2 separate regions of the Homo sapiens genome follow, and region 2 is linked to region 1. Evidence: fine-mapped expression QTL. A gene starts in region 1. The other region holds a variant in brackets. All regions are shown on one strand. Distances are from middle to middle.

Evidence for each region. PIP is the estimated chance that this variant, and not a neighbour inherited with it, causes the effect. A credible set is the group of variants that fine-mapping cannot tell apart.
Region 2: its variant is the best candidate, but not a certain one, in a credible set for the expression of CNGA4 in whole blood (INTERVAL, PIP 0.86).

Annotation. Positions count from the first base shown.
Region 1 is chr11:6,236,301-6,240,685 of GRCh38, forward strand. It overlaps CNGA4 (cyclic nucleotide gated channel subunit alpha 4), which reads left to right and starts at 2,789. Exons shown (of 6, transcript NM_001037329.4): 1 at 2,789-2,968; 2 at 3,084-3,185; 3 at 3,384-3,490; 4 at 3,766-4,385. The coding sequence starts at 2,907.
Region 2 is chr11:6,056,449-6,060,847 of GRCh38, forward strand. It overlaps the pseudogene OR52L2P. Among named protein-coding and RNA genes, the nearest start is that of OR56A1, 28 kb to the left of the region's middle. The variant G/A (reference allele first, on the strand shown) is at 1,959.

The DNA of each region.
Region 1 (4,385 bases):
AACCATGTTAAGGAATTTAGATTTTATTTTTGGGATGATAGCTATAAAGAATTTTATACATAGATTGATAGTTATACAGTAACTTTGCAAAAGACCAAACAAGCTGATAAGGCCCAAACTAGAGTAGCAAAAATGCAGAGAAGTGGACATGTGGATTTTTAGAAGGTAGATCACCATGGTTTGATGATTGGGTGGATATAAGAGGAAAATAAGAGGAAGAATTAAAAACTAATGCTTAGTTTATATAAATTCAAAAACAGGTAAAACTAAACTGTGATATTAGAATTCAGGATAGTGATTATTCTTGGAAAAACATTGACTGAAAGGGGCAGAGTGGGGCTCCTGAGGCACTGGTGATGTTCTGTTTCTTGATCTGAGTGCTTGGTTATATGGGTGTGTTCACTTTGTGAAAATGTATTAAGCTATATACTTAAGGATTGTACACCTTTCTCTGTGTTTGTTTGTTCTGGTTACTATGCTATGTGACAAACCAACCCAAACTTAGTGTCATAAAAACAATAGCCATTTTATTATGTGCACAAATTCTGGGAATTTGGACGAGATGCAACAGGAATGGCTTGTCTCTATTCCATGATGTCTGGGGCCTTATTTGTAAAGCTTGAACATCTAGAGGTGGTTTGAGGCTGGTGGCTGGAAGCATCTGGAGGCTTCTTCAGTCACACATCTAATTCCTGGGCTGGGATAATGAAAAAGCTGAACTCATTGGGCAAACTGTCAAACAGAACTTCTCACAATGTGATGGGTAGGTTCCAAGAGGGAACATTCTGAGAGGGAGCTACCAGACAACACGCATTCCAAGAGAACCAGAGGGAAGCTGCATGGCCTTTTATGATCTAGCCTTAGAAGTCACACAACATCACTCCTGCTATACAAACTATCACAAGGGAGTGGTGTCGAAGAATTTGTGACCATTTTTTTTAACTGCCACAACATTATACAGTAAATAGTAATAAATGCTTGTCATAGGTTTTTTTGCTGAAAGGGCATAGATAGGAATTCTAGAAGAAAAAGTGGAGGAAGATAATGAGCTTAGTTATAGACCCAATGGGTTGAAGGTGACCGCGGGATACCCAAGTAGGAACATCCAGTGAGCAGTTAGTCATATAGATAACTGAAACTCAGGGAGAGTTCTCGGGAGCCACTATATGAGAAAGGAAGTCCTGTGGGTGACTGACGTCAATCAGACAGAGTTAGGAGGATGGCAAAAGTAGAAAGCCTAGAACAGAATCCAAGAAAAAAAAAAAACACCATCATAGAAGGAATAGACAGAGGAGCTTATGAAAGACACTAAAAAGAAACAGCAAACCAAGACATTATGGCATTACAAAGGATTTTATTCATTTTGTTGCATTACTTTGAATGTTGTCTTTTTATTTTAACAAGCGTAATACTTTGCAAAAAGAAATTAAGAAGCCATGGGAAAAGAGAGTTTTTCAAAATTTAATTAGGGACCACAGGTTTTTCTTCTAAAACACACTCCAAAAACACAAACCTGATTTTATCACTGAACTGTGAAAAACTCTTCACAGGTTCTCTATTGCCGTTGGGTAAAATCCAAGCTTTATAACATGGCTGACAGAACTCCTCCTGAGCTGGCCTCTGTCTATCATTCAACCTCATCTCTCACCACTACCCGCTAGGCCCTCTAAAATAAGCCAATTGATATTTGCCCAGTCACCCACGCTTTTTGATATCTCTATGCCTTTGCCCACTCTGTGCATTCTGCCTCTAGTGCTCTTCACCCTCCCATCTCTGTACCCAACTCCTATTCATCCTGCAGAACCCAGGCTCTGTAGGGCCACTTCATGTGTACTATAATAGCCTTCCGTGTATCCAGCTAACAGAGTACTCATCAGCAGCCTGGCAATGACTGCTGCTGTTTAGTTACCTCATGTGTAATTACCTGCTGGCCTGACTATTTCACCTAGCAGACTGTGAGCTTCTGGAGAAGGGGGAGCGTGTCTTATTCATCTCCAATTCCTAGTATTTAGCACAATATTGGCCTGGCACACAGAACACCTGCCTATGGGTGTTCTGATTTTGATTTGTTGACTGAGAAAGATGATAGCAGTGAAAGGAACATCAGGTTGAGGGAGAAATTGTAGGGTTTTTGTTTGTTTTGATATAGGAGATATTGAAGCAGGTTCACAAAAAGAGAAAAGTTGAAAGATTGGGGACCATAAAACACATGGAATGGTTGGTAGGATCAGGCACTAGAAGTCACAAGAAGGATATGAGGACAAAAGCACCATAGGATGGCCCCTATCACACTACCTATGAGAATGGTGTGATGGGGGAAGGCGTATGTGGAGGTAGATAAGGGTAGGAAGTAGGTTACAAAAATAGAGCTCACTTCTCATGTGAGAGGCATCTCTTTGTCCCTGGAGAATAGTTTAGCACCTGACATAGATAAGCCATTCAGTAATAGTTGTTAAATAAATAAATAGTGAGGCCCAAATAGAATTTGCAAAGATAAAACAGAGTGTTTGATCCTACACTAAAACTGAGGTCTTCTGACCCAGAGGACACCTATGTAGCTCAGTTGCTGTGGAAAGAGGGGAGGAGGAAAACAGAGACAAGACTCAGGCTTCCCTCTGAGGCATGCACCCCCACCTTCTCCAGGGATCTCATTAGAGGTGTTTAGCTGGGCAGGTGTAAGCCCAGGCCCTGGGAGACAGGGCAGAGTGCTAGAGCTAGACTGTCTCCACCCCTTCAGTAGCGCTAGCTCTGGTTGTGTTGCTAAGAGCCCCAAAGACAAAGAAGTCACAGCAGAAGCCCAACAGCAGCCTCCTTCAGGCAGTCAGGCACTAGTGCCCAACTCCAGAAGTCCCCTACAGGCAGAGAGGGTGTGGACATCTCACACCCCAGCACCAGACCACAGAACCATGAGCCAGGACACCAAAGTGAAGACAACAGAGTCCAGTCCCCCAGCCCCATCCAAGGCCAGGTGAGAAGTCCTGGTCCCTTGTGTGGGATCTCTCCTCATTCCTCTTGGTGCCCCAGTCACAACTACAGCTTTGAATGCCTGGTGAATAAATGAAGCAAGACTTTCTTTCTTACAGGAAGTTGCTGCCTGTCCTGGACCCATCTGGGGATTACTACTACTGGTGGCTGAACACAATGGTCTTCCCAGTCATGTATAACCTCATCATCCTCGTGTGCAGGTATGGCAGCGGTGCTAAGGGAGGGGCTGGAAGCCAAAAAGAGGACTAAAGAGAGGTCAAGGAGAAGGGCAGACCCTTGGTGGGGCAGGAGGAGCAATTCCCATGGGAGGGCCTGAGGCAGAGGGTTAAGGGCCCTGGGGAGACGCCTCGCACACAGAGGGTGCCCTTAATTCAATCATGCTTAACCCTGCCCTGCAGAGCCTGCTTCCCCGACTTGCAGCACGGTTATCTGGTGGCCTGGTTGGTGCTGGACTACACGAGTGACCTGCTATACCTACTAGACATGGTGGTGCGCTTCCACACAGGTCAGTGGGCTTCTAGGAATGACCCTTTGTCCCACATTCCCTTCCTAAAGATAGCCACTTAAGAAGTAACAAGAAAGGCACCCCCACCGTGGTAGCACCTTCGCGTGCCTCTATGCCTGACAGCATCCCAGTGCTCACCCCGGAAAGCCGGGAGCAGAGTTATGCCTGGCTCCACTCTGTCCTTCAGACAGTCTCCCTGGCCTGCCCTGGGCAGCTCATGCTCAGCCCAAGCTTGACTACAGCAGGTCCGCTTCCTACCGGCTCCCTCTCCCCAGGATTCTTGGAACAGGGCATCCTGGTGGTGGACAAGGGTAGGATCTCGAGTCGCTACGTTCGCACCTGGAGTTTCTTCTTGGACCTGGCTTCCCTGATGCCCACAGATGTGGTCTACGTGCGGCTGGGCCCGCACACACCCACCCTGAGGCTGAACCGCTTTCTCCGCGCGCCCCGCCTCTTCGAGGCCTTCGACCGCACAGAGACCCGCACAGCTTACCCAAATGCCTTTCGCATTGCCAAGCTGATGCTTTACATTTTTGTCGTCATCCATTGGAACAGCTGCCTATACTTTGCCCTATCCCGGTACCTGGGCTTCGGGCGTGACGCATGGGTGTACCCGGACCCCGCGCAGCCTGGCTTTGAGCGCCTGCGGCGCCAGTACCTCTATAGCTTTTACTTCTCCACGCTGATACTGACTACAGTGGGCGATACACCGCCGCCAGCCAGGGAAGAAGAGTACCTCTTCATGGTGGGCGACTTCCTGCTGGCCGTCATGGGTTTCGCCACCATCATGGGTAGCATGAGCTCTGTCATCTACAACATGAACACTGCAGATGCGGCTTTCTACCCAGATCATGCACTGGTGAAGAAGTACATGAAGCTGCAGCACGTCAACCGC
Region 2 (4,399 bases), 180 kb before region 1:
GAATTCTGTCTGTTAGCAAATCCGTGTACAATGACCTACAAAGTCCTACAATTGGGGCACAAGAGCAGTGACCTTTACAGGCTCTGAGAAAACTCACAGCGAGGACCCAACCATTTAATTCTCATCTACAAACAAATAAGAGTAAAAATCTACAAATAATTGAGAAAAAACTAGTATCGTGAAGAAAGGACCAGGCTGAACAAGCGGAGAAACTCATCCCTTAAAGAAAAGAGTAAATGCAAGAAAAAAGTCATTTATAATATGCATAATAAATATTTTAGAAATGTCCTAATTTATGCATTTTGATGTGGCAGAAAAGTAAAGGAATCTAAGTCATCCTAAAAGACACGAAAAGGTTCATCTAAAGGGTTAACACTAGCATTTAGCTGAATGGCTGTACCATGTAAATGTGCTGCCAGCACAAACTTAGAGGTTTGGAAGACACTCTAAACCTAAAACCAAGCTGAGGGTGGGACTTCCCATTGCCATTCCAGAGAATGTTGCATAGTCTATCACTGGGCAATGGCAGGAAAGATGACACATCCAGAGCTGTCATCCATTTCTACTGTCCTCAAGTCTCTCTGACACAGGAGTAGGAAAATGTTGGAATCAGGAGCAAAAGAAAGAATGGAAAAACTATTCACAAATTCAGGTATCCAGATACATCCCAATAAGCTGTGAAGCCAGGTGCCTCTGGATATTCTTTGCTGTGATATGTGACACTAGAAGGACTGCTCGCTGTGAAAATTACCCCATCCATATAATCTGCACCAGCCATGAGTTCCTGGCTATGTCCTGGCAGGTGCCTCTGAAGGAAACAGTGAGAATATATTCAGGTCAATCCTTTAGTGTAAACACCCTGAGCACTCACTGGTGGATCTTCTGGGTCTTCACCCCATAGACAAGAGGATTGAGTGCAGGTGGCACAAGGCGATACAGTATGGCCAGAAGAACATGGACGTGATGGGGTACATGATGACCAAAGCGGTGAGTGAGGAAGGAGAACATTCCCGGGATATAGAAGACCAGGATGACACAAACATGAGAGCCACATGTGCTAAACGCCTTAAGTCGGGCCTCATTTCCTGGTACCTTCAGCACTGCCTGGAGAATGTGGGCATAGGAAACACCAATGGCCAGGACATCCAGCCCAACCACAAGCAAGGCCACAGTCAGCCCATAAGCTCGATTGACTGTGGTTTCTGAGCAGGCAAGTTTCACAACAGCCATATGTTCACAATAGGCATGGCCTATGATGGTGGCTTGGCAGAAGATAAGTTTTCGCAACAGAATGAGGAAGGGGATGAGGAGTAGTAATCCCCGCACCAGCACCACCATTCCGATGTGCCCTATGACCCCTGGATGCAGGATCGTGGAATGGTGCAAGGGGTGACAAATGGCTACATAGCGATCCAGAGCCATGGCCACAAGTACCCCTGACTCCATGGAGGAGAATGCATGGGTGAAGAACATCTGGATCAGGCAGACAGTGTAACCAATCTCTTGGGCACGAACCAGGAGCACTGCAAGGGCTTTGGGTGCAGTGGAGGAGGCCACAACCAGGTCGATGGCAGCTAGCATGGACAGGAAGAGGTACATAGGTTGGTGCAAGGATGGGTCCATCCAGATGATGAAGAGAATGGTAACATTGCCCACTAGAGCAAGGAGGTAAAGGATGCCCAGGGGCAGTGCGATCCAGTGCTGGCTTTCCTCTAAACCCGGAATTCCTACCAGGAAAAAAGAAGGCTGGGGTAGCCTCCAGCTGGAATTGCTAAGCGCCATTATCAATGACTTGAGGAGGAAAGAGAAAAAAGAATCCAAATTCATGATTTCTGCATTTCTGGTACATTATCACATAGTCCAGATCACATTGTCTACCATCTTCATGAGAAGAATAAAGTGACTAAAACTGCAACCAAAGGGAATAAAGTTAGATACAAGAAAGAAAATCTTTGGTG[G/A]AGATAAATTTTTTTACAGGTGAGACATCCACATGTCTGAATTAGAATAGGTCTAGTTTTTTTAGAGATAAGAGTAAACATACACTGTTTTGGGAGAGATGCATAAGCTTTAACCATTCAGTTGCTTATGTTTTGAAGCTGCCAACTTCAAAGGGTTCTCTTTATTAGCCTCTTGGCGTTACTGAACACAGTAAATTAAACTGTTGTTTTTGAAATTAGCCTCCCTCAGTTTCCGTGAAGTGGCACTCTAGAGTTGTTTCTCCTATAGCCTCAGTCCCACCATTTTCTCCATCTCATTATGTTGTTGATTCCAGGGATCCATCCTCTCCTCTTTTCCCTATTCAGTACATTATCTCTGAATTGACCTCATCCACTTTCATAGTTTTATCTATCTACTTTTATTTCTTTCAAATCTGTGTTTCTAAGTCAAATATCTTTCTGAAACACAAATCATTCTTTCCATTTGCTTCCTGAATAGCTATACTATAGCCTCAACATATTCAAAACTAAATTAATTCATCTATCCTTCTTAAATCTGTCCTACCTACCTTTGGCAATATTTTTATGAATTACATTACTATCCATCTACCAAACCCAATCTAGAAACTCGGAAACTATCTTTACTTATTCTTATCTCTCATCCCTTTTCCCCATTCGCCAATTCCTGTTAACTGCATTTTTAACACATAGCTGTTATATCCACTCCTGTTTTCAACCCCCGATGTCAAACATCCAACTTCTCTCACCTGTACTGTTTCATTACATCTCTCTGCCTTTGCTGTAAACATCTTCCCAATTCACTCTCAACCTTAAAGTCAGGTTTTTCCTAAAATGCAGATGTCGTTATGTCGTGCCTATGGCTAAAATCCTTCAGTGAATCTATTGCATGGAATAAAATCATACTCTTAAGACTGCATTAAAGGTTTTCAAGGGTTATCTATTGTGTATTACTTTGGTCTTACAGTTAACATATTTCTACATGTATGTTTTACTAAACCATTCCAACATTCTTGGAGTTATATGACTAAACTCTCCTATTTTACATATGCCTTTTGTGTAGTCTTTCTTCCACTTCCTTTATCTGAATTGGTCTTCCTCACTCTTGAAAATTTAGAGTCTACTCTCTTCTGCTGCTCAAAAGGACTCATTGGCTGTGTTAGGTCAAGAGTGATTATGTCACGAGCACTGTATGTTATGATCCTTCTTTGTTCATCCATAACTTTCTTGCTTATCTCCATCATAGAAATCCTGTCAGCATCTTAATGGCTTGTTTTAAAGAACTGTATCTCATTACATGTCATGATTATAAGCTAGCATGGATGCTTCACAATGCAGTGTGATAAATACAAGCTTTGCGGGCAAAGTTTGTTAAAATTCTGTCCATTTCATATTCTAGGAATAAAATCTTGCTAGGCTTCTAAAACTCTCTAAGTCTTAATTTCCTTATTTCATATTAGAATAAATAATATTAATCTTAAATACTAAAAATTTTAACTAATGTATGTAAAGTCTTGATATATAGGTTACCTTATAAAGTATAGTCTATAAATTATAGTTCTTTTTTAATGTTACTAATAAAAGATGGCTATGAGCTCTTAGTCATCTTTTATTAAGTTGGTACAAAAGTAATTGTGATTTTTGCCGTTGAAAGTAATGGCAAATATTAATAGCAATATTATTAATGTTTAAAAAGATAACTATAATTACCTTTCCTTTCTTCTTTGTCTTCATGACTCTGCTTCTCTGATTCAAACTTTTGATATGTTTACCTGTCATCATGATGTTATAGCAATTCAGTGTCTCTGACACCCCACGTTAACATGAACTATTGAATAAACAGCTGTCTGTTTAACCTTCTCCATGGGATTCACCCCTCAAGTATTAAAATAAGAAACTTGCAACTGGTTACATTTGTGTCTGTATGTTTATCTTAAAAGACAGATGTAGTCTGAAACAACTATATTTTTCTTTGTTGGGGTGGTGGTTCGTGTACATGTACATGTGAAGATTTTTAAAAGTCAAGAATGACTCAGTTCTTGTGGATTATGCATCTATAGATCACTCAGTGTGTCTTTTTTACAAATCAATAATGTTTGGGAACTATCATATTGCCCCCAAACTCTCAATATAACAACTATAAGTTCTGAAATTCTAGGTGGGCATATGTCTCCCAGCCTTTGTCTTTCTTCAAGAGTCAACTTAAAATAATGATGACATTTTTATTGAGACTTCCAGGGGAATCTTATACTCTTGCAAAAAAAAAAAAAAAAATCACCTTTCAGTGCTTAATATTCCACATACTGAGGAAGTTAATTCTCTTTCTTAGCTACTCCCCTTCTGTTACAACCATCAGCTCATTTCTCATTTTATAGCTGAGAAGTTGAAGAACAGGTATGTGTTTGTGGAAGGCACCCGTGGCTTTAATAGAAACAGTGTGCATA